Homo sapiens: one gene and its partners. The protein of the gene in region 1 interacts with the protein of each later gene in a biochemical or structural test. Each region holds a gene or a part of one and is shown in the gene's direction. Other genes may lie near its edges.

Region 1 (7,034 bases):
GATCACTTGAGGCCAGGAGTTCAAGGCCAGCCTGGGCAACATAGCAAGACCCCATCTCTACAAAAACGTTTTAAAAATTAGCCAGGTGTAGTGCCACATGGCTGTGGTCCCAGCTACTTGGGGGTCTGAGGCAGGAGGATTGCTTGAGGCCAGGAGTTTGAGGCTGCAGTAAGCTATAATTGTGCTGTTGCACTCGAGCCTGGATGACAGAACCAGACTCAATCTCTTAAAAAAAAAAATCTTAATTCAGTACTAATTCACTGAGGAGTCATGTATCTAGTAACCTTAGCATTGTTGCAAGTAAGAGAAAACCAGAAAGAAAGTGATAGAGGCTTCCAAAACACTGTCACATAAATGAGGTTTTTCAGTGAGAACATTTGGACACAGGATGGGGAACATCACACACCGGGGCCTGTCGTGGGGTTGGGGGAGGTTGGGGGATAGCATTAGGAGATATACCTAATGTAAATGTAGAGTTAATGGGTGCAGCACACCAACATGGCACATGTATACATATGTCACAAACCTGCACGTTGTGCGCACGTACCCTAGAACTAAAGTATAATTTAAAAAAATAATGAGGTTTTTTTTGGGGGGAGGGGTTGTTTTTGTTTTTTTGAAATGGAGTCTTGCTCTGTCACCAGGCTGGAGTGCAGTGGCGTATCTGGCCTCACTGCAACCTCCGCCTCCTGGGTTCAAGCAGTTCTCCTGCCTCAGCCTCCCGAGTAGCTGGGACTAAAAGTGCACACCACCATGCCCAGCTAATTTTTGTATTTTTTATAGAGACAGGGTTTCACTATGTTGGCCAGGGTGGTCTCAATCTCTTGACTTTGTGATCTGCCCGCCTCGGCCTCCCAAAGTGCTGGGATTACAGGTGTGACCACTGCGCCTGGCCTATAAATAAGCTATTAATTGAGTTTTTACAACTGGCTAATGAGCTTTAGTATTTAGAATCACCGAACTCTATAGAGATGAACTGCTCTTTTAAAAGATCATGTGTTTTTAAACTCAAGTTCAATGAGCCGATTATTTCACGAGGGTGCCAGGTGACATAGTGAAGACCACATATGCACAGAGTGATAGAACGCTGGCAGGTCCCAAGCCCTTTTCTGTGATTCTTCTCTTACCTCACCACTATCCTGCTCTTGACAGGATTACGGTTTCTTTGCACTCTCTTCTCTTTCTTCAGCCAGACCTTTCTGGAAGAAATCATTCATTTAAATTAAAAATAGATATATTTTTTATATCTATTTTCTCACACCAGTATCTTGCTCGCGACAGAATTATGATTTCTTTGCACTCTCTTCCCTTCAGCCAGACCTTTCTGGAAGAAATCATTCATTTAAATAAAAAATGGATATACCTTGCTAGGTCCTTGGGATATTTAGGTTCAAGTGAAGAAGGTAAAGAATAGGAAAATGCCTTTAAGTCCAGGTGCCATGGCTCACACCTGTGATGGGATGCCAAGGCAGGGGAGGATCAGTTGAGCCCAGGAGTTCAAGAAACAGCCTGGGCAACATGGCAAATCCCCATCTCTACAAAAAATGCAAAAATTAGCCAGACATATTGGTACACACCTGTATTCCCAGTTACTCAGGAGGCTGATGAGGGAGGATCGTTTGAGCCCAGGAGTTCAAGGCTGCAGTGAGCTGAGATGAACCCACTGTGCTCCAGCCTGGGTGACAGAGCAAGACACTGTCTCCAAAAAAAAAAAAAAAACCTTTAAGTCCCAAGAATATTCATCTAGACAGTAGTTCTGTTTTGGGAGGCTTGATTTTTTTTTTTTTTTTGTAATTATTATGGGAAATTTAAAACTACACAAATACAAAGAGAATAATGAACTCATTCAGCTTCAACAATTATCAAAGTTTATCACTTTTTTTTTTTTTTTGAGATGGAGTTTTGCTCTGTCACCCAGGCTAGAGTGCAGTGGCATGGTCTCAGCTCACTGCAACCTCCACCTCCCGGGTTCAATCAATTCTCTTGCCTCAGCCTCCCAAATAGCTGGGATTACAAGTACCCGCCACCACGCCGAGCTAATTTTTGTATTTTTAATAGAGACGGGGTTTTGCCATGTTGGCCAGGCTGATCTCGAACTCCTGACTTCAAGTGATCTGCCTGCCTCGGCCTCCCAAAGTGCTGGGATTACAGGTGTGAGTCACTGCTCCCAGCCAAATTTTATCACTCTTTGTTTAGTTGTCACTGACCACTTTTTTTAATCCTGCAGTGTTTTAAAATAAATCCCAGAAATCATGTTTCACCAGAAGTTCAATATGTATCTCTACGTAGACATTTTTCCATAACCATCATGTCATTATCACACTCAACAAATTAACCGTAATTAACAAATTAATAATCTGATTCTCAGTCCATATTCCACTTGCCCTGGTTGTCTTAGAGATACCTTTTTACTGTAAGCAGTAAACAAGGCCACAGATTGCCTTTGATCCTTTTTTTCAGTCTTTTATTCTGTTATATAAACTTCAAGGAGTCCAAGAACCATTGAAATAGATTACAAAAGTTTATATACATACTTTTTTCCTTGGTAGAGGATCATAGCATTTATCCATTTCTAATAGGGTTCTGTGACACAAAGTATGTTAGAAACCACTGATATGGGCTTTCTGGAATGATCAAATAGATTGTGATAATCCTTCATACACGAGTTTTCTTTCATTTTATTTTTTTATGTGTGTGACAGAGTCTTGCTCTGTCAGCCAGGCTGGAGTGCAGTGGCACCATCTCAGCTCGCTGCAAACTCTGCCTCCCAGGTTGAAGCAATTCTCCTGCTTCAGTCTCCCAAGTAGCTGGGACTACAGGCTCGTACCACCATGACTGGCTAATTTTTGTATTTTTAGTAGAGATGGGGTTTCACCTTGTTGGGCTGGTGTTGAACTCCTGGCCTCAAGTGATCTGCCTGCCTCAGCCTCCCAAAGTGCTGGGATTACAGGCATGAGCCACCACACTCACCCAAATTTTATCACATTTGTTTCAGTTGTCACTGACCACTTTTTTTTTTTTTTTTTTTGAGATGGAGTCTCACTCTGTCACCCAGGCTGGAGTGCAGTGGTACGATCTCAGTTCACTGCAGCCTCCAACTCCCAGGTTCCAGCGATTCTCCTGCCTCAGCCTCCTGAGTAGGGATCACAGTTGCACGCCACCATGCCTGGCTAATTTTTGTATTTTTAATAGAGGCGGGGTTTCACCATGTTGGCTAGGCTGGTCTTGAACTCCTTGTCCTCAAGTGATCCGCCCACCTTGGCATCCCAAAGTGCTGGGATTACAGGCATAAGCCACTACACCCATCCAAATTTTATCACTCTTGTTTCAGTTGTCACTGACAATTTTTTTTTTTTTTTTTTTTTTTGTTGACACGGAGTCTCACTCTGTCGCCCAGGCTGGAGTGCAGTGGCGTGACCTCAGCTCACTGCGACCTCCGCCTCCTGGGTTCAAGCAATTCTCCTGCCTCAGCCTCCTGAGTAGCTGAGATCACAGGTGTGCACCACCACACCCAGATAATTTTTGTATTTTTAGTAGAGATCGGGTTTCACCATGTTAGCCAGGCTGGTCTCAAACTCCTGACCTCAGGTGATGCACCCACCTCGGCCCCTCAAAGTGCTGGGATTACAGGCATGAGCCACCGCACCAGCCTATAGTATTAATGTTTATCTTGTAGCTGACTATGTTACTGAATCACAGTTTTTTGTTTTTTTTTTAATTTTTGGACACAGAGCCTCACTCTGTCACCCAGGCTGGAGTGCAGTGGCATGAGCCACCGCACCAGGTCCCCCCCCCCCTTTTTTTTTTTATCCTGCAGTGTTTTAAAACAAATTTCCTAAATCATATTTCACCAAAAATGTTCACAAAGTTTTCTGAAATGTCTGAAGTTCAGGCATTCCTTCTGTGTTTTAGGTCAGCCAGGCATATAGGATTATATGGTACCTTATACTCAATAAGACCTTTGTCTTTTTTTTTTTTTTAAATGAAAAAATGAAACATAACTTGCTGGAAATTACTTGTTTATTTTCACTAAACTTGACATATTAAAGTGCTAATACTCTGGAAATAACGTAAATTATCGTTACATGGTTCTTTTTAGCCAAAAATAATATGGATGAAAATATGGATGAGTCAGATAAAAGAAAATGTTCACGAAGTCCAAAAAAAATAAAAATAGAGCCTGATTCTGAAAAAGATGAGGTAAAAGGTTCAGATGCTGCAAAAGGAGCAGACCAAAATGAAATGGATATCTCAAAGATTACTGAGAAGAAGGACCAAGGTAAGGAGAGTCAGCTGTGGAGGGCAGCCTGGGGGTGATAAGAATGCACTGGATCAGGGTCCCACCACAGGAAAGGTACTGCGTTGTGTTTTCTTGATAACAGCTTTATCAAAACATAATTGATATCCCATACAATTCACCCAATTAAAGTGTAAATTCAGTGGCTTTTAGTATATTCACAAAGTTCAACCATTATTACATCAATCTTAGAACATTTTCATAACCTTGAAAAGAAGCCTCATTCATACCCATTAGCAGTTACTTCCCAACCCCTCCCGAAAGTGCCACCAGCTTAGTGGTCTACTTTCTGTCTCTCTGGATTTGCCTATTTTGGACAGTCCATAGAAATGGAATCAGACAATATGTGGTCCTTTGTGGCTGGCTTCATCCACTTAGCATGGTTTTAAGGTTCATCCATGTTGTAGCATTTATCAGTACTTTCTTTTTGTTTCTGAATAATACTCTGTATGGATATGCCACATTTTGTTATCCATTCATCAGTTGATGGACATTGGGCTGTTTCCTCTTTTGGCTATACGAATAATGCTGCTATGAACATTCATGCAGAAGTTTTTTGTGGCCATGCGTTTTCACTTCTCTTGGCGATATACCTAGGAATGGAATTACTGGATCATATGGTAACTCTGTTTAACCTTTTGAGGAACTACATTGTCTTTTGTAACAAGTCATTTTTAAAAAAAAACTAGATAAGCTAGATAATGCATGTGGCTAGAGATACTTTAAAAAAATATTTTTGGCTGGGCGTGGTGGCTCATGCCTGTAATCTCAGCACTTTGGGAGGCTGAGGTGGGCGGATCACCTGAAGTCAGGAGTTCAAGACCAGCCTGGCCAACATTGCGAAACCCTGTCTCTACTGAAAATTCAAAAATAAGCCAGGCATGGTGGCACATGCCTATAATCCCAGCTACTTGGGAGGCTGAAGCATGAGAATTGCTTGAACCCAGGAGGCGGAGGTTGCAGTGAACTGAGATCATGCCACTGCACTCCAGCCTGGGCAACAGAGTGAGACTCCATCTCAAAAAAAAAAATATATATATATAAATTCCTCCTTTCAGAGTAAAAATTACATTTATATAAATGTCTTTGTTTCACAGATGTGAAGGAGCTCTTAGATTCTGACAGTGATAAACCCTGCAAGGAAGAACCAATGGAAGTAGACGATGACATGAAAACAGAGTCACATGTAAATTGTCAGGAGAGTTCTCAAGTAGATGTGGTCAATGTTAGTGAGGGTTTTCATCTAAGGACTAGTTACAAAAAGAAAACAAAATCATCCAAACTAGATGGACTTCTTGAAAGGAGAATTAAACAGTTTACACTGGAAGAAAAACAGCGACTCGAAAAAATCAAGTTGGAGGGTGGAATTAAGGGTATAGGAAAGACTTCTACAAATTCTTCAAAAAATCTCTCTGAATCACCAGTAATAACGAAAGCAAAAGAAGGGTGTCAGAGTGACTCGATGAGACAAGAACAGAGCCCAAATGCAAATAATGATCAACCTGAGGACTTGATTCAGGGATGTTCAGAAAGTGATTCCTCAGTTCTTAGAATGAGTGATCCTAGTCATACCACAAACAAACTTTATCCAAAAGATCGAGTGTTAGATGATGTCTCCATTCGGAGCCCAGAAACAAAATGTCCGAAACAAAATTCCATTGAAAATGACATAGAAGAAAAAGTCTCTGACCTTGCCAGTAGAGGCCAGGAACCCAGTAAGAGTAAAACAAAAGGAAATGATTTTTTCATCGATGACTCTAAACTAGCCAGTGCAGATGATATTGGTACTTTGATCTGTAAGAACAAAAAACCGCTCATACAGGAGGAAAGTGACACCATTGTTTCTTCTTCCAAGAGTGCTTTACATTCATCAGTGCCTAAAAGTACCAATGACAGAGATGCCACACCTCTGTCAAGAGCAATGGACTTTGAAGGAAAACTGGGATGTGACTCTGAATCTAATAGCACTTTGGAAAATAGTTCTGATACCGTGTCTATTCAGGATAGCAGTGAAGAAGATATGATTGTTCAGAATAGCAATGAAAGCATTTCTGAACAGTTCAGAACTCGAGAACAAGATGTTGAAGTCTTGGAGCCGTTAAAGTGTGAGTTGGTTTCTGGTGAGTCCACTGGAAACTGTGAGGACAGGCTGCCGGTCAAGGGGACTGAAGCAAATGGTAAAAAACCAAGTCAGCAGAAGAAATTAGAGGAGAGACCAGTTAATAAATGTAGTGATCAAATAAAGCTAAAAAATACCACTGACAAAAAGAATAATGAAAATCGAGAGTCTGAAAAGAAAGGACAGAGAACAAGTACATTTCAAATAAATGGAAAAGATAATAAACCCAAAATATATTTGAAAGGTGAATGCTTGAAAGAAATTTCTGAGAGTAGAGTAGTAAGTGGTAATGTTGAACCAAAGGTTAATAATATAAATAAAATAATCCCTGAGAATGATATTAAATCATTGACTGTTAAAGAATCTGCTATAAGGCCATTCATTAATGGTGATGTCATCATGGAAGATTTTAATGAAAGAAACAGCTCCGAAACAAAATCGCATTTGCTGAGTTCTTCAGATGCTGAAGGTAACTACCGAGATAGCCTTGAGACCCTGCCATCAACCAAAGAGTCTGACAGTACACAGACGACCACACCCTCAGCATCTTGTCCAGAAAGCAATTCAGTTAATCAGGTAGAAGATATGGAAATAGAAACCTCAGAAGTTAAGAAAGTT
Region 2 (7,071 bases), on another chromosome or scaffold:
TAGGCACTGTCCTGGCTGTCACCTTATTATGGTCTCTTGATTTCCTCAGTAGACAGTGCCTCCAGGGCAGGGCAGTGTCTTAGGTCTCTCATACCTGGCACTCAAGTGTTCGCCTGATTTCCTGGCATCCCCGAGCAGTCACTTCACCTGATGAAGACACTGCACCCAGAGAAACTGGATGCCTAGCAAGTTAACATTAGGTTCTGGAGCTACAGGATATACCAAGTTAAGGTGTGGTGAGGGGAGTCCTGCTGCTGTAGGTGGTGATGAGGGAGGAGGTAGGTGGGGAGCAACTTCTTTTTCTGCTCAGCCCCCTACAGAAGCTAAGCAGCATGGACCCGGCCATGCTGGAGCGCCTCCTCAGCTTGGACCGTCTGCTTGCCTCCCAGGGGAGCCAGGGGGCCCCTCTGTTGAGTACCCCAAAGCGAGAGCGGATGGTGCTAATGAAGACAGTGGAAGAGAAGGACCTAGAGATTGAGGTACGTGTTTTAGGGATGTGGGAGCTGGATTCCTATTGGCCTTGAGAAGCAATCCTTGGATCTTCAGACAGGGAAGGACACTCAGGCTGGACTAGAGTCCAGTTTTCTCCCAATACCGGAAGTTCTCCAGCTTCTGCTTGAATGTCCTTAACATGGCTGAACTTTGACAGACAATTGAGACCAGATGTGAGGGTGAGAAGAAAAAGTTCAAAGTAAAAGCAACAAATGTTAAACATTACATTTCCTAAAGCCCAGCTCAATTAATTGAGGACTGTGCTTGAAAAGCCTTTCCCTTCAATATTTGCAGAGGCTTGTTCCACCTCTGGGTAGCCCCCTAATCACAGAAAGCCCTTAATTATGTTAGGCTCCACCTGTCTCCTGGTAACCTCCCACTGGTCCTAGCCCTGCCCTCTGGGGGCTCAGAGCCTTGCATACTCACCCTGGTAACCCACTCCCTTCAGGCTGCCCTGGAGTTGGGTCTGGATCACATCTCCCTGATCCTTTCCAACAGAGGCTTAAGACGAAGCAAAAAGAACTGGAGGCCAAGATGTTGGCCCAGAAGGCTGAGGAAAAGGAGAACCATTGTCCCACAATGCTCCGGCCCCTTTCACATCGCACAGTCACAGGGGCAAAGCCCCTGAAAAAGGCTGTGGTGATGCCCCTACAGCTAAGTAAGTTTGACTCCAGGGGCTGGGGGGCCAAGGCAGCTGAGATCCTATAAGGGAGGAAGTGTTAGGAGCAGCTGTCTCCATGTCATTCATATTCTCCCACCACATACCAGTCCCAGGGAGGGGTGAGGAGGCTCTGAGGCAGTGCTGGGGGTGCTCTGCCCTCGGGTGTTTAGGACAGTGGGATGGACAAACGAGTAGAGGATTGAAGATAATGCAAGACTGACTGAAATTCCTTTAAATGCGGGTATAAAAAAGGTCATGTGGAAACACAACAGGTTAACTCTGGATGGAGGGGAGCTGGGGAATCAGAAATGGAAGAATCGAAGGGCTACCAGGGAGGGTGAAAAGTACCCTTTGCCCTGACTCCAATTCTCGATTCCTACTTTCAGTTCAGGAGCAGGCAGCATCCCCAAATGCCGAGATCCACATCCTGAAGAATAAAGGCCGGAAGAGAAAGGTGAAAGTAGCTGGGGGCTTAGGCTACACCTGGAGCCCAGAAGTAAGGGGGAGTAGGCTCTAGGGGGAGGAGCGTTGGCCTTGGGGTTAAACGAACTGGATGATGGCCGCCAGCTACTAACAGACCTCAACTTGCTTACCCCTGGAATGTGGTGATGGATGGTTCCTTGCAGGGCATTTAGGGTGGAAGGCAGTGATGTGGATGTACCTCGCAGAGCGGATGTTCCACTGTGTAGCCTGGCTTCTACCCTCTACAAGCTTAAGAGGGAAAACTTAGGGAACTATGACCTAAGCAGTCAAGCAAGAAACCACACATATGCACATACCCAGAATCGAACACCACTAGAACTACCCAAAAACTGAGATGGTTGGGGGAGGTATCATTTATTCATATTACTTTCTCCCATGTACTTTTTGAAAGACAGCTTATTCTTTCCCTTTTAGAGATGAGGGACCAGATTTAAGAGCTTATTTTGTGCTTTACATTCATTAACTCACTTGATCTCCACAGCAACTCCATGAGAAGGGTGCTAATATTACCACTGGGTACTGAGTAGTACCTCTCTTTCACTAGTTGCATAATAAGAATTAACCCAGAGAGTGACCTGAGGGCGGGATTTTGGACACACTTGACAAGAGAGGAAGAGGCTGGAGCGCAGGAGGTAGCTGGTGCTGGGCTCCTAGTCTTGGCAGAGGAGCCCAAAGCACTTGGCTGCCCTGCGTGTCACTCATCTCCCTTTGCCTCCCAGCTGGAGTCCCTGGATGCCCTAGAGCCTGAGGAGAAGGCTGAGGACTGCTGGGAGCTACAGATCAGCCCGGAGCTACTGGCTCATGGGCGCCAAAAAATACTGGATCTGCTGAACGAAGGCTCAGCCCGAGATCTCCGCAGTCTTCAGCGCATTGGCCCGAAGAAGGCCCAGCTAATCGTGGGCTGGCGGGAGCTCCACGGCCCCTTCAGCCAGGTAGCAGCCCACTGGACTGGGGGAGGGCGGGGGCGGGGGAGACCGGGTACCCCCGAGACCCTGTCCCCTATCGATCCTGTCCCGCCAGGTGGAGGACCTGGAACGCGTGGAGGGCATAACGGGGAAACAGATGGAGTCCTTCCTGAAGGTGAAGTCACGGCCCTGCCCCTCCTCTGCCTGTCCTGCGCCCCGCGCCCCTCTCTAACGTCGCTGTCTCCCTCCCTCCTGTGTTGCAGGCAAACATCCTGGGTCTCGCCGCCGGCCAGCGCTGTGGCGCCTCCTGACCGTCGTCTCCTCACTCCGCCTTTTCAAATTTTTGTATAACCCCGTGTTGTGTAAATACAGTTTTTGCTCCGGTGCTTCCGCCTGATTTTTGGGGCTGCGGGGGCGGGACCGGGGTGTGACCGCCTCGGGGTGGGCCGCGAGCAAGGCAGGCGACTCCACTGGGCGCCATCTTCGGGGAACGACTCAGCGCAGGATTGTAAATACACCGCTGGGGTGGGGCGGGGAGGACGGTGGCCTGCAGGACGCAAAAAGCGGAAGCCGAAGCATGAGGCCTGCGACCGTTAGGCGGGCGCGCGCTCAGGGATTAGCCCCGCCCCGTCCGTGCCCCCGGCGCGCGCGCTCCCCCATTCTCCCGCTCGGCAACGACGGCGGCCTTGTGCGCGTGCGCGCGAAATAACGGCCGCTGGCGGAGGGAGGGGGAGTGGAATCGTTGGCGGGGGGAAGAGGAGAGAAGCCGCCCTGTCTCCCGCGCGCCCACCACCTGCGCCATCGTCAGCCAATCAGCAGCCGTCTCAGGGGTCTCGCGCTCGGGGCGACTCGGGCTGCTGGGTGGCTCCCCCGTCCCTCCTCCCGCCAGAGTCCCTCTCGCGCCTGCCCCTCCCGCTGGCCACGCGCGCGCTCGCGCTAGCGCTCGCGCCCGCTCCAGCCTCTTGTGTGTCCTCGCGCCCCCCGCCCGCCCTCCCCGCGCGTAGTGTGCTCCGCTTCCCCCACCCTCCACCTCCCCCCTCCTGCCCGCCCCGCGCGCCTCCTCCCGGGTTCCCCCTCCCCCACCGCCGCCGCCTCCTCCTCCCGCCCCAGGGTGAGCGCGAGCCACCTCCCTCCCTCCCTCCGCCATGGATCCCAGCAACTGGAGCAGCTTCATCTTCCAGGTAACAACTCCCTCCCCCCGCCCCCACCCCCCTGCCCACACCCCCTCCTGCCCGCCCTCCCTCCCGTCCCACCCCCCCTCCGCGCGCCCGGTGCGCGCGCAGCTGTCCCCCTCCCTCCCTCGCGCCCTCCCCCGCCCTCCCCGAGGCGCCGGCTGGGCGCGCGCGCGGCGGGGGCCGAGGCTGCTCCCTCGCTCCCCCCACCCCGCCCCGCCAGGCTCCAACCGCCGCCGCCGCCGCCGCCGCCGCCCGGGCCCCCGCCCCCGGCCCCGGCCCCGCGGGGCCTCCCGCCCCCACCCAGGGGGCGTCGCCGCCGCCGTCGCCGCGGCGCTCCGCGGCCCGCAAGGCGCCCTCTTTTCCTCCCTCCCGCCGGCCGGGGTGCGCGGGCGGCGGGGCGGCCCGCGGGCCATGCGTTCGGCGCGGCCCAGCCCGGCCGGCCGGGGGCGGCGCCCCGAGCCCGGGCCCCGCGCGGCCCGCGCCCCCGGCCCCCGCTGAGCCCCGGGGGCCCCGCTGCGGCCGAGGCCATGTTCCCGGTGTTTCCTTGCACGCTGCTGGCCCCCCCCTTCCCCGTGCTGGGCCTGGACTCCCGGGGGGTGGGCGGCCTCATGAACTCCTTCCCGCCACCTCAGGGTCACGCCCAGAACCCCCTGCAGGTCGGGGCTGAGCTCCAGTCCCGCTTCTTTGCCTCCCAGGGCTGCGCCCAGAGTCCATTCCAGGTGAGTAGGGCCGGCCGCGGCGGCCCGGGCTGGGGGGGGACGCCCGCCCGCACCCGCGGCCCACTCGGCGCCTTGTCTCCGCAGGCCGCGCCGGCGCCCCCGCCCACGCCCCAGGCCCCGGCGGCCGAGCCCCTCCAGGTGGACTTGCTCCCGGTGCTCGCCGCCGCCCAGGAGTCCGCCGCGGCTGCTGCGGCCGCTGCCGCCGCTGCTGCCGCCGTCGCTGCCGCGCCCCCGGCCCCTGCCGCCGCCTCTACGGTGGACACAGCGGCCCTGAAGCAGCCTCCGGCGCCCCCTCCGCCACCCCCGCCAGTGTCGGCGCCCGCGGCCGAGGCCGCGCCCCCCGCCTCCGCCGCCACTATCGCCGCGGCGGCGGCCACCGCCGTCGTAGCCCCAACCTCGACGGTCGCCGTGGCCCCGGTCGCGTCTGCCTTGGAGAAGAAGACAAAGAGCAAGGGGCCCTACATCTGCGCTCTGTGCGCCAAGGAGTTCAAGAACGGCTACAATCTCCGGAGGCACGAAGCCATCCACACGGGAGCCAAGGCCGGCCGGGTCCCCTCGGGTGCTATGAAGATGCCGACCATGGTGCCCCTGAGCCTCCTGAGCGTGCCCCAGCTGAGCGGAGCCGGCGGGGGAGGGGGAGAGGCGGGTGCCGGCGGCGGCGCTGCCGCAGTGGCCGCCGGTGGCGTGGTGACCACGACCGCCTCGGGGAAGCGCATCCGGAAGAACCATGCCTGCGAGATGTGTGGCAAGGCCTTCCGCGACGTCTACCACCTGAACCGACACAAGCTGTCGCACTCGGACGAGAAGCCCTACCAGTGCCCGGTGTGCCAGCAGCGCTTCAAGCGCAAGGACCGCATGAGCTACCACGTGCGCTCACATGACGGCGCTGTGCACAAGCCCTACAACTGCTCCCACTGTGGCAAGAGCTTCTCCCGGTGTGCACGGGGCCTCGGCCGCCCGCTAGGCCGTGGGGAGGGAGGGACGCGACGGAGGTGGCCTGGCCGTGGCTGGCGGGGAGGGAGGCGGCTGCTGAGGCTGGGGAAGGGGAGCCACTCCCAGGGCGGAGGGAGGAAGCCTCTCCCGGTTACCAGGGAGCAAGGGGTGGTCCTTTGTCGAGGAGGTGGGCCTTGGGGTTGACGGAAGCTTCGCGTGGGAGGAGGCGGCGGCGGCGGCAGCGGCTGCTGGGCTCCAGGGGAGGGATTTCCTGCTTAAGTGTCGCTGTGACGGCCTGGGCTCCGGGAGGAGGCGCAGGGATCCTCGGAAAGGCCTGTGGTGCGGTTTGGTGGATTTGGGGCGCACCACCTCCGCCCTAACCCCAACCCCAACGTGTCCCCAGGCCGGATCACCTCAACAGTCACGTCAGACAAGTGCACTCAACAGAACGGCCCTTCAAATGTGAGGTAGGAAGCCCGCCTCCTCCTGTCTTGGTTTTCATGATTTTGATCCTCATGGTAGCTGTCTGAGTCAGTCTCTCAGACCCCCTTTTTCTCTCTCTTCTTTTTGCCTTTTTGCTCCATTTTCTCATCCCTTCTTCAAGGCCTCATCATGTCACTCCCATTTCCTACAGATCAAAGATCCCCAAGGCTCTGATTCCTTTAATCTCTTGCTCCCCCCTCCCCAGCCCACCAAGCTTTAACTCTCCTGTGACACCCCCCACGCCCCTCCCCCCTCCTCAGAAATGTGAGGCAGCTTTCGCCACGAAGGATCGGCTGCGGGCGCACACAGTACGACACGAGGAGAAAGTGCCATGTCACGTGTGTGGCAAGATGCTGAGCTCGGCTTATATTTCGGACCACATGAAGGTGCACAGCCAGGGTCCTCACCATGTCTGTGAGCTCTGCAACAAAGGTACATGCCGAGGGCTGCCGGGAGGGCCAGGGGCAGAGGGTGGGCGCCTGGCCAGACGCCTTGCCACGGATACGGGTTAAGGGTGCTGTAGCCAAGAGCTCGTGGCGTCTAGATTCCTACAAGAGGTCAAGGGAGCAGCGGGGGGACACCTGAATGAACATCATTAGACTCTAAGAAGTCCTGGTTGGAAGAGATGATCTGCCAGAGAGGTTGAACCTCCTGGTAATGTGTGGGGAAAGCGGGAGTGGAACTTGGCTGCTCTGGGGAAGGAGTAGTCAAGAAAGCCAGTTCCAGGGGTCACAAGGCAAGGTTTCCGCTGCGCAGCCACAAGGTCTTGTCTCCAGCTCCTGGGGCAGGTGGAGTACACGGGCCGGGCTTTACCAGCACGCACCCTGCACGGGTAGCAGAGAAAGCTGCCTTCAGTCAGACTCACCGGTTAACTGGGTTGAGACCGCGGGGCACTGGAGGGAAGGGGACACAGCCGTCTCTGCTGAGGGTCAACCCTGCAAGTGGCTAGGAGTCAGTGTCTCGTCATCCTGGGAGAGGTCTCCCGGCCATGGAGAATGAGTTCTGTAGGTACCAAGGCTGAGAAGCGGGCACCACACAAGCCAGGCCCCAGGCTCAGGGAGGGGCTGTGTCTACCAGCCCCAACAGAGCAGTTGGCCCCAGGCTACCAAGGATACCGTGGGAGGAGGACAGGGCCATCTGAGGAGGGCATCCCCCGCCTAGGAGATCAGCCCCGTCTCTGGGGTCTCCGCCTGGCTGACCCCCGCCCCATCCCAATCCAC
Region 3 (7,034 bases), on another chromosome or scaffold:
CACGTCCCTGGGTGCCAGACATAATTGCTTCACATGCATAATTTTACAGTAACCTCACGGGAAATATTATTATCCCTGGTTTCCAGGTTGGGAAAACCAGGCATAATAGTTAGATCAGGCATTAGGTTAGGAAAGGTTAGGAGAGAGGCATAGAGAAAGGCCAGGACCTGCTAAGGTGACCATACTATTGAGTGGCCAAGGTAGCATTCAAACAGGTTTGACTCCTGGGGGCTTCTAATCACCACTTCCAGACTGTACCAAAACTCCTTAAACTCTAAATAGGAAGAAAAGCTCACACTTTAAAAAGTGGGTAAGTTGAGATTTGCCTATTCTGGGGGAAGGAGAGGCCGGAATATAAAAGATTAATGTCTGCAGCTTTTCCATTTAGCAAGACATTTAATCACTGTATGTGACGTGGGGAGGTGGACCTTGTTAAATACAGGGAGAGTGAATACAATCCATCAATGGTACCCACTGTGGTCCTTTTAAGGAAGACACAGAGGCCTCGGTGGATTCAATTTAGAAAGGCAGGACTGTTTTTTGTTTTTTGTTTTTTTTTTTTTTTGAGATGAAGTCTTGTTCTGTTGCCCAGGCTGGAATGCAGTGGCCTGATCTTGGCTCACTGCAGCCTCTACTTCCCGGGTTCAAGTGATTCTCCTGCTTCAGCCTCCCGAGTAGCTGGGATTATAGGCACCCACTGCCCGGCTAATTTTTGTATTTTTAGTAGAGATGGGGTTTTACCATGTTGGCCAGGCTGGGCTGGTCTCGAACTCCTGACCTCAGGTGATCCACCCGCCTCGGCCTCCCAAAGTGTTGGGATTACAGGTGTGAGCCACTGCGCCAGTCTGTTTCTTAATATAATAATAGTTTTAAAAATTTCTGATGTTTGGCAATGTCCAAGATTCTGCCTCACATTTTTCAGAAACTGCCTTTTTTCTTAATTAAATCTCTTAGCTACTGGAGTCTTTGCCTTTGTTTGCCTTGCTACTTGGTACATTTCTTCTGTTCCATTGGCTCTTTTTGTTTTGAAGTAGTGCTCAAAAATAAGTTTGGTAGTAAGAATATGGTGAAGAGTGTGACAGACAGGGTTAAACCAGGCTGAAGGAAAGAGAGCAGAATGGGGAAAATTTGAGTTGAAAACAGCTAGCAGAAAGCTGATGGCGCAAATTCAACCCTAATCTCATGTTTTGGCACTTCTGAACTATAGCAAGCATAAGGGCTCAACTCTTATCTAGTTGAAGCTTACTTGGGTCTTTGAGAATAGTACATCTCAAAATTAAACACTTTCTTAGTCCTTATTGTTAAGTTGTTTTTGGAATTATTGTCTTATTTGTCTGAATTAAGTGTGCTGCAGGACTTATAGGATCTGATGGATGATTTGCCTAAAAGTTGGTCCAGGTCAACCTCAGGGCATTTAAATGCTTGGTCCAGCCACTTTCTGAAAGTTGACTGAAATATGTTGCACAGCAGGGTAGAGGAGGACAAGTTTACTAGATGTCATTTTTAACCTGCTTGTCTTCATCTCTGACTGTAGAAATGTATATTCATTATAAGTTTGCCACAAATAGAGAATAGAGTTTATTCTTTGATCATCTAATTTCTAGGAGCTATTGAAATTTCACTGCTACCTGCTTTTAAATAAGCGCCAACAAACATTTATTAAAAGGGCTTTAAGGTATAGGCCAAGATTTATTCAATTGCTAATGGTATGTTTTCTGTAAATGAAAGCAAAAATATGTTCAAGTGTATAATATTAAATATTAACATTCAGAAACTTGGAGAAATACAGATGGCTTTTTTTTTTGAGACGCAGTCTTGCTCTGTCGCCCAGGCTGGAGTGCAGTGGCATGATCTCCGCTCACTGCAAGCTCCACCTCCCGGGTTCACGCCATTCTCCTGCCCCAGCCTCCCGAGTAGCTGGTACTACAGGCACCCGCCACCACGCCTGGCTAATTTTTTGTATTTTTAGTAGAGATGGGGTTTCACTGTGTTAGCCAGGATGATCTCGATCTCCTGACCTCATGATCCGCCTGCCTCAGCCTCCCAAAGTGCTGGGATTACAAGCTTAAGCCACCGCGCCTGGCCTAGATGGATTTCTTGTACCAGACTATACCCTAGACATGAAAACAAGACTGTTAAACAAAATCCTGTGCTACCTAAAGTTTGAGCCTTCTGTGTGTCAGTTTCTGCCATAATAAATAACTCTTAACTATGATTATTAAGTATATTAAGAACTTTGAGTAGGGGAGGCACGTTTAATCATTCGTTTTTACGGCATATGTACTATAATACCTGTGTGTTGCAAATCCTGGTATTTAAAAGTCTTTTTGTGTATTTGAGCATGTAAGTTTATTTGGTCCAAACTGCTGGTACTAGTAAAGACAAGTCCAGGGCATAAGTAGGACTTACAGCACCAAGTTCGTCTTTTTTTTTTGAGACAGAGTCTCAGTCGGTCACCCAGGCTGGAGTGCATTGGTACAGTCTGGGCTCACTGCACCCTCCACCTCCCGAGTTCAAGCGATTCTCCTGCCTCAGCCTCCCAAGTAGCTGGGATTACAAGTGTGTGCCGCCACGCCCGGTTAATTTTTGTATTTTTAGTAGAGATGGAGTTTCACTATGTTGGCCAGGCTGATCCCGACCTCAGGTGATGTGCCCACCTTGGTCTCCGAAAGTGCTGGGATTATAGGCGTGAGCCACTGCGCCTGACCTCCAAGTCCATCTTTCAAAGGCTCTGTTGATAATTGACTCTTGAGAGTCATTACAGTCCATCAACAGCCTGTATTCTGAATATTTGTTTTTAATTCTAAGACAATGCTAAATAGCCATTCCAAATAAGGTGAGAACTGAGACTTTAGGGCCTGTATTATCAGCTGTACACTGACAAGCTCTGAACTCTATTGCTTTTTCAAATCAGAGAAGAAAAATGAGTAAGAAAAGAAAAATATGGATCACTTAGGCTTTGATGCCTCCTCTGAGTTTATAGTGTTTACCTTCTGTATTACTTAGGTGATCCTCTCTAATGGCATTTTAAATCTCTGTTGATACTTGTCTTACTTATGTATCTGTTTTTTTTTCCTCTATAGTAGATAGAATTTATAGATATATATGTATTTTAAAGTAAGATACAATTTACGTACCTTACAATTTACCCATTTAATCTAATTCAGGGTTATGCAACCCTATGAATTTAGTAGTTTATTCATAGAGTTATGCAACCATCACTGTAATCAATTTTCAACACCCTCAAAAGAAACCCCATATCCATTAGCAGTCACTTCCCATTTCCCCTCAACTCTCCTGGCCCCTGGTAACTACTCAGTTATTTTCTGTACCTATGGATTTGCCTATTCTGGACATATCATGTAAATGGAATAGCATGTAAATGGAATCATACAGTATTTATCCTTCTGTTGCTGGCTTCTTTCACAGCAATATGTTTTCAAGGTTTAAAAATGTTGCAACGTATATCAATAGCGTCATTCCTTTTTATGGCTGCATACTATTCCATTGTATGGCTATACCACATTTTATTTATCCAGTTGATGATCATTTGAGTTGTTTCCACTTTTTATGTTTCTGTTTGTTTCTTACAGCAGTGGTTCTCAAACTGTTGTATATTAGACTCACCATCAGTATTTAAAAAACTAATGCCCAGGCCATATCCCTCATGAAATCAAAATCTCTGGGGGTGGGGCCCAGGCATCACTATTTTTTAAAGATTCTGAGGGGATTCTAACGAGCAGTCAGGTTTGAGAGCCAGTGCCCTAGGGCAGCAGTCCACAACCTTTTTAGCACCAGGGACTAGTTTTGTGGAAGACAGTTTTTCCATAGAAGGAGGTAGAGGATGGTTTCAGGATGAAACTGTTCCACCTCAGATCATCAGGCATTAGATTGTCCTAAGGAGCTGGCAACCTACATCCCTTGCATACTCAGTTTACAACAGGGTTCCGGCTTCTCTGATAAACTAATGCTGCTGCTAATCTGACAGGAGGTGGAGCTCAGGCGGGAATGCTCGCCTACTGCTCACCTCCTGCTGTGCGGCCTGGTTCCTAATGGGCCACTGACCCCTCCGCAGCCAGCAGGTGGGGACCCCTGCCCTAGGGGACCCACCTCAGTGCTTGGTATCCATTGAAGTATATAGTGATTTAGAAAATCTGGTTAGGATGTCTTATTTAAATCATGAAAGCAAGTGCTTTTGTCTTTGATCATTGCCCTTCACAGCCTTACAGTTAACACCTACATTCAGGAACTGTGTTTCAAAGTGCCTGGCGAGTGTTTGAAACTCACTAAATATATATAACCTGGGCTCATTAAACCCCTCCAGAAGATTTGGGTAACTTTGTTATGAAAGGGCTTCCCTGAAGTGGGTCAGCAGGATTGCTCTGTGTTTTTTCAGGAATGTGGCCTGTGATAACTTGCAATCTAGATTATTTGGAAATAGCACTGAGAGAAGCCAGTGAGGACAGAATGCTCAGAAGCTTGGGATAGGTGTTGAACATCCTGGAGGCCAGGACGGAACACTGTCTTACTCTAGGAAGCTGTGTTCCTGGGCCTCATTATCTTCCTCCGTTAAAAACAAAAGACTTAAATCTCCACAGCAGCTTTCAGCAACTTCATTTTTTGGTTCTCTGTATCTGCCTGATAAAGTCCCACTTTGTAGTGGCTCCCACTTATATTTACCTGAATGGCTTTTGGGTTGACATATTTGGAAACTGGGGCTAACTTCCAAACTGTTGGCAACTTGTGTGTGGGTGTGCGTGCCACAGCACAGCAGTCCCACTTGAGAGACTTGATGGTGTGGTGGTGGTTGGGGGGCTTCTGAAGCTGGCTTAGCCCCAGCCCTATACACCCACCCCACAGATGGTGGGAACAAGCCCAGAAGAGAGTGGGTAACTCTGTCCACTGTGGCCTCCACAGCCAAGGTTGCCAGGCAGAGCTCGCAAGGCCCAATTCCAGTCTTGTCTTTGACCGTTGCCCCTTTGTGTTGGGGGGGTGTATTTAGTCACCTTTCTGGAAGCATGCTTTTCTAATTCTAGTCATCAGTAGTTTGTTGCTTTAAGATTTTGAAAATGGTATCCTGTTATTTTACTTAGGAGTTTCGTATTGAATGGTGTACATAATGTGATTCAAGTACCTCAAAACAGAAGGACTTCAGTTAAGATTTAGGCTCTATGCAACATACACTTCTTGCATTTTCTCATTCAATGTCCTTTCCTTTTTTTTTTTTTTTTTTTTTGCAAGAATGTAGCTGACATTCAGAGTAGATTAGTACCTTCAATGTCTGTGTGAAAGAAATGACCTTAATATGAGGACAATATTGACTGTGTATTTAGGGGGCCCACTGTTAAGGCATATAGAATTTTGCTTTATTTCAGACCTGACAATCTCTTGTCTGCTCTGCTTCCGCATAAAATTATAATACTGCACATGGATGTAAAACCCAACCTATTCCCTGCCTGAGGGACTAGAATAGAGGGAAGAATGACTATAGTTCTTTGTTGCCTTTTGTGAAGGTAACAGGCACAGAGGTATGATGCATGATGGAATTATATACCTCTTCTTGAGGTGTTTGAGGGCTGACTAAGGACCTGTACTTTTTTTTTGGTTTGTTTTGCAGTACTGGGGCCAGGGAGCCTTGCTGTTGTGTCTAGAGAGTGTTGAAGAACCATGAATATTTCGCAAAAAGAAAATAATTTTTTTAACCATTAAAATTCCTGGTAGTGACTTCCTCTGGCAAGTAAAAAACTCTCATTTTCCTTAAAAAATGAGAGTTTTTTACTTGCAATAGGAAAACTTGCCAATTTTTCAAGTTATTTTTATTCTTGATGATTCTCAATGAGACATAATTAAAATACACATAGAAAAAACAACCGTAGGCCAGGTGCAGTGGCTCACACCAGTAATCCCAACACTTTGGGAAGTCAAGGTGGGAGGATCACTAGAGACCAGGAGTTTGAGATGAGCCTGGGCAACATATTGAGACACTGTCTCCTCAAAAAATTAAAAAAATTAGCTGGATCCAGTGGTGCACACCTGCAATTGTAGCTATTTGGGAGGCTAAGGTGGAAGAATAGCTTGAGCCCAGGAGTTTGAAGGTGCAGTGAGCCATAATCATGCCACTGTACTCCAGCCCAGGCAACAGAGTAAGATCATGTCTCAATGAAAAAAAGAAAAATCAACCCTAGTGGACTGGAACAGGGCTGGTTTACTTTGTGTCAGCTGCAGTGCCCCCACTCGCCAACCCACATGTTCTTCTCCTGCTGGTTCCCAAGCAGAGACCAGAACCAAGAATGAGAATCATCCTGTGGGTGCAGGTTGTATCTTATCCTCCAGAGACAGCACTTCACCCTCTGTTAGAAACTTCTTTACCACACTGCCTGTTTGGTGAAATCCTTAGGGCAGTGACTTCCAAACTGTGATCCAGGGGCCACCCTTGGTGGGAGGATCAGGAAGGAGGGGGAATGTATCTTAAGAAAAGTTGGGGGAAGCTCATATCTCTTCTCGTTGATCCTGAGAAGTAAAGTCTTTCCTCCTCAGAGAGATGCGGGTAGACATGACTCGCCTAGATAGAAGCTCATTCATCTCCCTCCCTTCTGCCTCTGCAGGACTCTTGGAAGTCTGGGTCCCCGGGAGTATGCGGCTCTTGCTCTGTGCTACAGGTTTCCAAAGTTCACTTGATAACAGTACAATTGTGCTGTAAATTGTGCAGTAATGGAGACTGAGGAAACAATTAGTCTTTCATCTTCATTCATGTTACCAGCTCACTTCCTATGGTGTGAAAAGAGCCAGACTTTGGAGTTAGGAGACATCTGAATACAGACAGAACTGGCAAGATTATGGGGAAGAAAAGGGAAAAGTAATGAATATTTTCAAAGAGGTTAAGCCATTTGGCCAGGACAACACTGCTTGCAGGTAGCAGAACTGGGATTTTGACTGTCCATAATCCCTATTCTCTGCTTGTTTTACTCCTTCCCTCTCTTCTTTCTTTTTTCATTGTCTAATGACCTACAGACATTCTGTCAGCTGCTAAAGAA
Region 4 (7,000 bases), on another chromosome or scaffold:
AGCCCTAGCGTCAAGAGCAGAAAGACCAAAGATCAGAGAGAGGCCAAGGCCTGGCAGGCAGGAGGGGCCGGGCCAACAGCAGATGATGAGGAATTGCAGAACGATGTTTGCTGGCACCGAACAGCTGTAGGCACTGTAAACACACGCTCCATCTTATCCTCATCCCAGCCCTGGGTGGGGATGCCAGCATCATCCGTACAGATGAGAGAACTAAGGCCCAGGGAGGGAGAGTGACTTGCCTGCAGTCACACTGGTAGAAGAGCTGTGTCTAGAACTCTGCCCTCTTGGCTTCTTCCTTAGTCTCATTTTAGGCAGATGGCTTTAGGATGACCCTCTTCAGGAAGTTAGGTCTTCAGCTCATTGTTCCTCTCCTCCTCTGTTGCTCCATTTCTGACTCAGGGACCCTGGTGATGCTGAGGAGCCCAGGATATTAAAACTGAGAGTCCGGGAAGGGAGGAGGAGATTTGGGTAGTTATAAAGGAACAAAATTTTCTCGCTGAGAAATGACTTTTTTAGAGTCCTACATACTGGTTTCTTTTTCTTTTTCTTTTTTTTTTTTTTTTTTTTTGAGATGGAGTCTCACTCTGTCATCCAAGCTGAAGTGAGTGGCACCATCTTGGCTTACTGCAATCTCTGCCTCCAGGACGTGCCTCAGCCTCCCAAGTAGCTGGGACTACAGGTGCGTGCTACCACGCCTGGCTAATTTTTTGTATTTTAGTAGAGAGGGGGTTTCACCATGTTGCCCAGGGTGGTCTCGAACTCCTGAGCTCAGGTGACCCACCTGCCTCAGCCTCCCAAAGTGCTGGGATTACAGGCGTGAACCACCATGCCCGGCCCTAGATACTGGTTTAAACATGGCCCTGATATAGTCAGGTCTACCTGGTCTGCTTGGTTGAATCTCTCAGGCCATCCTGCTTTGGGTTTAGAGAATCCAGTCCCTTTTCTTTCCACTCACGGACCAAAGTTTGCGGAGAGGCAGGGCTGTGTGCCCCCGCCTTCTGCTCCACACTCCCCCCTGCCAGCCGCCAGCTCCTGCGGCAGATGCAGAGGTGCCCACATGTCAGCTAGAGCCAGCGCCTTGCAAGCTACTCTCCCTTTCTCTTCATTTTTCCAGATGTTTGGAATCCATTTTGTTTTGCAGTCATGCTGCACTCAGGCCAAACCCATTTCAATATTGGCCTTGGGCCACCGTTTGTAATGAAATCCAGATGAGCATGACTTATGGAAAGTCAGATTCTCATTAGAGGATTTCATCCTGTAAAATCCTCCTCTTCCACTTACCGTATTTTAGCTGCTGTTCTTCTGTGTCTGCCCCAGGGTGTCAGGGAACACAGCCCCTTGGTTTCTTGGGTGTCTCTGAAATCCAGGAGTGACCAGTGGAGCAATCAAAGTGGTCAGACCTCAAAAGAACTTACAACTATGTTATGGCCTGAAGAGATCAGCCCAGGCCCAAAGGTCTAGCCAGAGAAATGTTTTAAGCAATCTTTTAGCCCTGGCTTAGCTCATTTAGGGAACAGGAGTGAAAGGTTAGAAAATTAATCTTTTTTTAGTGAAGAAGGGAAATATTTAAAGATGGACTGCAGTGGAAAAGAGTAAGGGGATGTCCATTTGCTCTTCTTATACCAGACTGTAGTCTGGAGGGCCACACTCAGGTACCCTCGCTCGTGCAGACACCCCAGGGTCTGTCTGCAGGCCCATTTCTCAACCTCCCTGCTACACAAGCAAAGTAGAGGCCAAGCAAGGAGGGTGGTGCCTTCAAGACAGCAACACTGTTCCTGGTGTGGCATTGCAGCTCTCCCGCTCCAAGTGCTAGGAAGAGGCTCTTTGGTGGCAGAGCCTTTCCCTGGGGACACTATCACCACGCGGGATGTCCTGCCAGCACACCCAGTCCTCTGTGGCCCACCGCGTCACCGCTGCCTGGCAGCACTGCACAGCAGCCTGACGGGCGGGCGCGGCCCCTTCCCAGAACAGCCTTGTCGTCCTCCTGCCTCTTGGGCCAAGGAGAGTAAGGTTTCAGCTCTTCTCTCTGTGAGGTGGCTGAAAGCAGGGCCCAGGGCCCACACCTCTCACCTCCAGCTGGCACCAGCGACTCCAGCCTCAGCAGATAGCCTTTGCTCAGTGGAGGCCTTTGGGAGCCTGCCTGCAAGCTGCGTCATCAACCAGCCTGAATTTAGACAAAGTGCTTTGGGGAAAAGAAACGTGTGGTGTGCCTTGTTTTTTTCCAGTAATTGTTCCATGGCTCGTTCTGCTTGTAAGATTTTCCAAAATAAGGCCGTAGATGAGAATTATATCAGCACATTGGGAACCGAAGGCATGCGGACACTGTTGGCGCTTTGTAAAAAACACCCCTCAATCAGACAGACACACGTCATCGTCGCCTGCTGGGGCTGGGCCCAGATTTCGAGATAGGGGAGCGGCACGTGCCCGTTTGGTACAGATGGGAGCCAGGAAGCCCTTTGCTCAGGATGGAGGTCTCCTCTATTAGGGGGCCTGTTACAGTAACTGGTGGGCCTCTGGGGTACCCTGCAATTGACTTTACATATTTAACTCTTTGCCATTGACTTTACATGTTTAACTCTTTAAAGTCGACTTCCTTCCCCCTCAAGAGAACTTAATTTACTCAAAGTCCTCCCTGGGTAGAGGAGTTTGGCCGGGTAGTTTCAGCAAGTTACTGGTACCGCTTCTAGGACAGCGTCTAACAGCATCTTTGGGAAGATGACTGTCACCAAAGCAGAAAAAGCTTTCTGACTTGTGTAACCCCCTGGAGATTTTTTAAGTCCCCCACCCCACCCCTTTCCCTATTTCTTACAGGAGACAGACTGTGACCAGTACCCCCTGCTGGATTGAGCTGCACCTGAATGGGCCTTTGCAGTGGCTTGACAAGGTCCTCACCCAGATGGGCTCCCCAAGCATCCGCTGTTCCAGTGTGTCTTAGAGACATCAAGTATGGTAGGGGAGGGCAGGCTTGGGGAAAATGGCCATGCAGGAGGTGGAGAAAATTGGAACTCTACTCAACCCATTGTTGTCAAGGAAGAAGAAATCTTTCTCCCTCAACTGAAGGGGTGCACCCACCTGTTTTCTGAAACACACGAGCAAACCCAGAGGTGGATGTTATGAACAGCTGTGTCTGCCAAACACATTTACCCTTTGGCCCCACTTTGAAGGGCAAGAAATGGCGTCTGCTCTGGTGGCTTAAGTGAGCAGAACAGGTAGTATTACACCACCGGCCCCCTCCCCCCAGACTCTTTTTTTGAGTGACAGCTTTCTGGGATGTCACAGTCCAACCAGAAACACCCCTCTGTCTAGGACTGCAGTGTGGAGTTCACCTTGGAAGGGCGTTCTAGGTAGGAAGAGCCCGCAGGGCCATGCAGACCTCATGCCCAGCTCTCTGACGCTTGTGACAGTGCCTCTTCCAGTGAACATTCCCAGCCCAGCCCCGCCCCGCCCCGCCCCACCACTCCAGCAGACCTTGCCCCTTGTGAGCTGGATAGACTTGGGATGGGGAGGGAGGGAGTTTTGTCTGTCTCCCTCCCCTCTCAGAACATACTGATTGGGAGGTGCGTGTTCAGCAGAACCTGCACACAGGACAGCGGGAAAAATCGATGAGCGCCACCTCTTTAAAAACTCACTTACGTTTGTCCTTTTTCACTTTGAAAAGTTGGAAGGATCTGCTGAGGCCCAGTGCATATGCAATGTATAGTGTCTATTATCACATTAATCTCAAAGAGATTCGAATGACGGTAAGTGTTCTCATGAAGCAGGAGGCCCTTGTCGTGGGATGGCATTTGGTCTCAGGCAGCACCACACTGGGTGCGTCTCCAGTCATCTGTAAGAGCTTGCTCCAGATTCTGATGCATACGGCTATATTGGTTTATGTAGTCAGTTGCATTCATTAAATCAACTTTATCATATGCTCTTTTAAATGTTTGGTTTATATATTTTCTTTAAAAATCCTGGGCTGGCACATTGACTGGGAAACCTGAGTGAGACCCAGCAACTGCTTCTCTCCCTTCTCTCTCCTGAGGTGAAGCTTTTCCAGGTTTTGTTGAAGAGATACCTGCCAGCACTTCTGCAAGCTGAAATTTACAGAAGCAAATTCACCAGAAGGGAAACATCTCAGGCCAACATAGGCAAATGAAAAGGGCTATTAAAATATTTTTACACCTTTGAAAATTGCAGGCTTGGTACAAAGAGGTCTGTCATCTTCCCCCTGGGATATAAGATGATCTAGCTCCCGGTAGAGGATCACCGGTGACAACTATAGCAGTTGTATTGTGTAACAAGTACTGCTCCCAGCAGCAATTAGGGAGAAAACTAGTCTAAATTATTTCAACTGGAAAAAAGAAAAAAGAGTCCTCTTCTTTTCCCAGCCTTTTGCAGAACACAGTAGACAGAACTGCCACCTTCAATTGGTACTTTATTCTTTGCTGCTGTTTTTGTATAAAATGACCTATCCCACGTTTTTGCATGAATTTATAGCAGGAAAAATCAAGGGATTTCCTATGGAAGTCCTGCTTTATTCCAGGTGAAGGGAAGGAAGTGTATATACTTTTGGCAAGTCATACAGCTCAAATGTGATGAGATTTCTGATGTTAGAGGGAGATGGAGAGGCTTCCTGATGCCTCATCTGCAGGGTCCTGTGCCTCTGAAGTTCTAGCCATGAGGTTTCCAGGTAGGACAGCTGCTCCCCAAGCCTCCTGAGGACACAGGAAGAGACGGAAGGAGCACCTTGACAGACTTGTGTGAGTCTTCTCGAAGGAGGGTTGACTCAGAACCCAGAGACAATACAAAACCCCTCACTTCCTCTGAGAGGGCCAAATGCTGTGAGTCTGAAGTATGTGCCTGGTGTGAAATGATCTATGGCCTGTTTCTTACACAGGAAGCCCCCTGAACCTCCTGTACATGTGTTCATGTTCCCAGCCAGCTCTGAGACCCAGGAACCAAATATTCCATTTTGGCTTCTGCTAGAGCAGTCATGGTTCCTCTCCTAAAAGCCATGGGCAGCAGTTTCCGAGGGCCTGCATGATCCACCTGCTGCACGATCCTATGAGGGCTTCCTGTGGCACACAGCCCTCTGGGTGCTTGGGAACTAGCTTCAGGCACAGCCTGATTCTGGTGATCCAGTGATCTATGGAAGTCGTGTCTTACTCCAGGTGAAGGGGGAAAAAAAAAGCCTATACTTTGGCAGGTTATGAACTTTGAATGTGATGAAATGACACGTTTGGCTGCATTTGGATGGTGTCTTAGAACCCTCATTGCTCAGACCTGAAGGCTACTTCTAGGAGCATGAAGTTTGAGTTTTGTGTTTTTCCAAAGGATACTTCCTTGGCCCTTTTTCTTTATTGACTAGACCACCAGAGGAGGATGTGTGGGATTGTAGGCAAACCCACCTGTGGCATCACTGAAAATAAATTTGATCATACCTAAGAGGTTAGGAAATGGTGCCATTCCCACCTTAGAGTGCTACATAGGTGCTTTGGGCGTATGTAACATTAGTGTCCTTCCTTGAAGCCACAAGCTAGTTTTCTTAGTTTTAAAATCCTGTTGTATGAATGGCATTTGTATATTAAAACACTTTTTTAAAGGACAGTTGAAAAGGGCAAGAGGAAACCAGGGCAGTTCTAGAGGAGTGCTGGTGACTGGATAGCAGTTTTAAGTGGCGTTCACCTAGTCAACACGACCGCGTGTGTTGCCCCTGCCCTGGGCTCCCCGCCATGACATCTTCACCTTGCAGCTTGTGCTGAGACTGACCCAAGTGCAGCTAGCACTGGGACACAGATCCTTGTCTTCAGCACCTTCCAAGGAGCCAACTTTTATTCCCTTTCCTCTCTCCCCTCCCCACCTCGCTTCTTCCCAATTTAGTAACTTAGATGCTTCCAGCACATACGTAGGTAGCTACCCCAGCCGGTTTGGATTACAGGCCTGTGCTGGAACATCATCTCAGTTGGCCACCTTCCTGGCAGGCTGTAGACCTGACATTTTGAGACAAGCCTAGAGGAGTCAGGAGCAGGGACTTTGACTCTTAGGAAGAGCACACATGAGGGCAAGGCTGCTGGCAGACGTCTCCATTGTCCTTATGTTGTCTGTGTTGTATTTTTTTTTTTTTATTGACCATGGTGATTATTTTTTTAAACCATCGTTAATATACTGAAGTGAGCTATAGCACATATCATGTGCTTAGTTTGTTTATTTTTCTCCATCTCCCCTTGGCTTCCTAGAGTTTGGACATATTCCAGGCTAAATGCTTTTACTCAAGACTACAGAAAGGTTTGAAGTAGTGTGTGCATGGCATGCACGTATGTAAGTAATCTGGGGAAGAAGCAAAGATCTGTTTCATTCTTAGCCTCAGGCCTCATGAGGGTCTCCACAGGGCCGGAGCTCAGGTTACACCACTCCTTCGTCCTTACAGGAGATGTAGGGAGAAGAATCTGCAGGCTGCTTGTAGGACTGTTCACCAAGGGGGATACCAGCAGCAAGAGAGTGCACCCGTTTAGCCCTGGACCCTGTTTCTTACTGTGTGACTTGGCTAGAGTTGGGAGTTCCCCCAAAATAAACGTGTCCCCATTTTACCAGAACCAAACCTCAACACAGCGAAGCTGTACTGTCTTTGTGTGGCAAAGATGTTCCCTTGTAGGCCCCTTTCAGGTAACCGTCTTCACAATGTATTTTCATCACAGTTTAAGGAGCATCAGCCGCTTCTCAAGTGGGTAGGGAAAGCAGAAAAACGTACGCAAGAGGACATGGATCCAAAATGATGATGAAGCATCTCCCATGGGGAGGTGATGGTGGGGAGATGATGGGCTAAACAGGCAACTTTTCAAAAACACAGCTATCATAGAAAAGAAACTTGCCTCATGTAAACTGGATTGAGAAATTCTCAGTGATTCTGCAATGGATTTTTTTTTAATGCAGAAGTAATGTATACTCTAGTATTCTGGTGTTTTTATATTTATGTAATAATTTCTTAAAACCATTCAGACAGATAACTATTTAATTTTTT

The links.
Region 2: the proteins of BPTF (region 1) and MAZ form a complex in vitro, tested with the Homo sapiens proteins (one study listed by BioGRID).
Region 3: the proteins of BPTF (region 1) and NFE2L2 form a complex in vitro, tested with the Homo sapiens proteins (one study listed by BioGRID).
Region 4: the proteins of BPTF (region 1) and SMAD3 form a complex in vitro, tested with the Homo sapiens proteins (one study listed by BioGRID).

The regions. Positions count from the first base shown.
Region 1 is NC_000017.11:67,905,483-67,912,516, forward strand, and holds part of BPTF (nucleosome-remodeling factor subunit BPTF), read left to right. Parts: intron 1-4,099; coding exon 4,100-4,279; intron 4,280-5,394; coding exon 5,395-7,034. UniProt on the Homo sapiens protein: Regulatory subunit of the ATP-dependent NURF-1 and NURF-5 ISWI chromatin remodeling complexes, which form ordered nucleosome arrays on chromatin and facilitate access to DNA during DNA-templated processes such as DNA replication, transcription, and repair.
Region 2 is NC_000016.10:29,802,459-29,809,529, forward strand, and holds the start of MAZ (myc-associated zinc finger protein), read left to right. Parts: upstream 1-4,070; 5' UTR 4,071-4,243; coding exon 4,244-4,435; intron 4,436-4,519; coding exon 4,520-5,370; intron 5,371-5,771; coding exon 5,772-5,835; intron 5,836-5,972; coding exon of another isoform or gene 5,973-6,071; exon of another isoform or gene 6,072-6,111; coding exon 6,112-6,283; exon of another isoform or gene 6,284-6,675; intron 6,676-7,071. Other genes in the region: kinesin-like protein KIF22, read left to right, coding at 311-479, 991-1,150, 1,540-1,607, 2,356-2,568, 2,657-2,716, 2,805-2,852. UniProt on the Homo sapiens protein: Transcriptional regulator, potentially with dual roles in transcription initiation and termination.
Region 3 is NC_000002.12:177,254,702-177,261,735, reverse strand, and holds part of NFE2L2 (nuclear factor erythroid 2-related factor 2), read left to right. Parts: intron 1-5,725; exon of another isoform or gene 5,726-5,791; intron 5,792-7,034.
Region 4 is NC_000015.10:67,187,602-67,194,601, forward strand, and holds part of SMAD3 (mothers against decapentaplegic homolog 3), read left to right. Parts: intron 1-2,811; coding exon 2,812-2,935; 3' UTR 2,936-7,000. UniProt on the Homo sapiens protein: Receptor-regulated SMAD (R-SMAD) that is an intracellular signal transducer and transcriptional modulator activated by TGF-beta (transforming growth factor) and activin type 1 receptor kinases.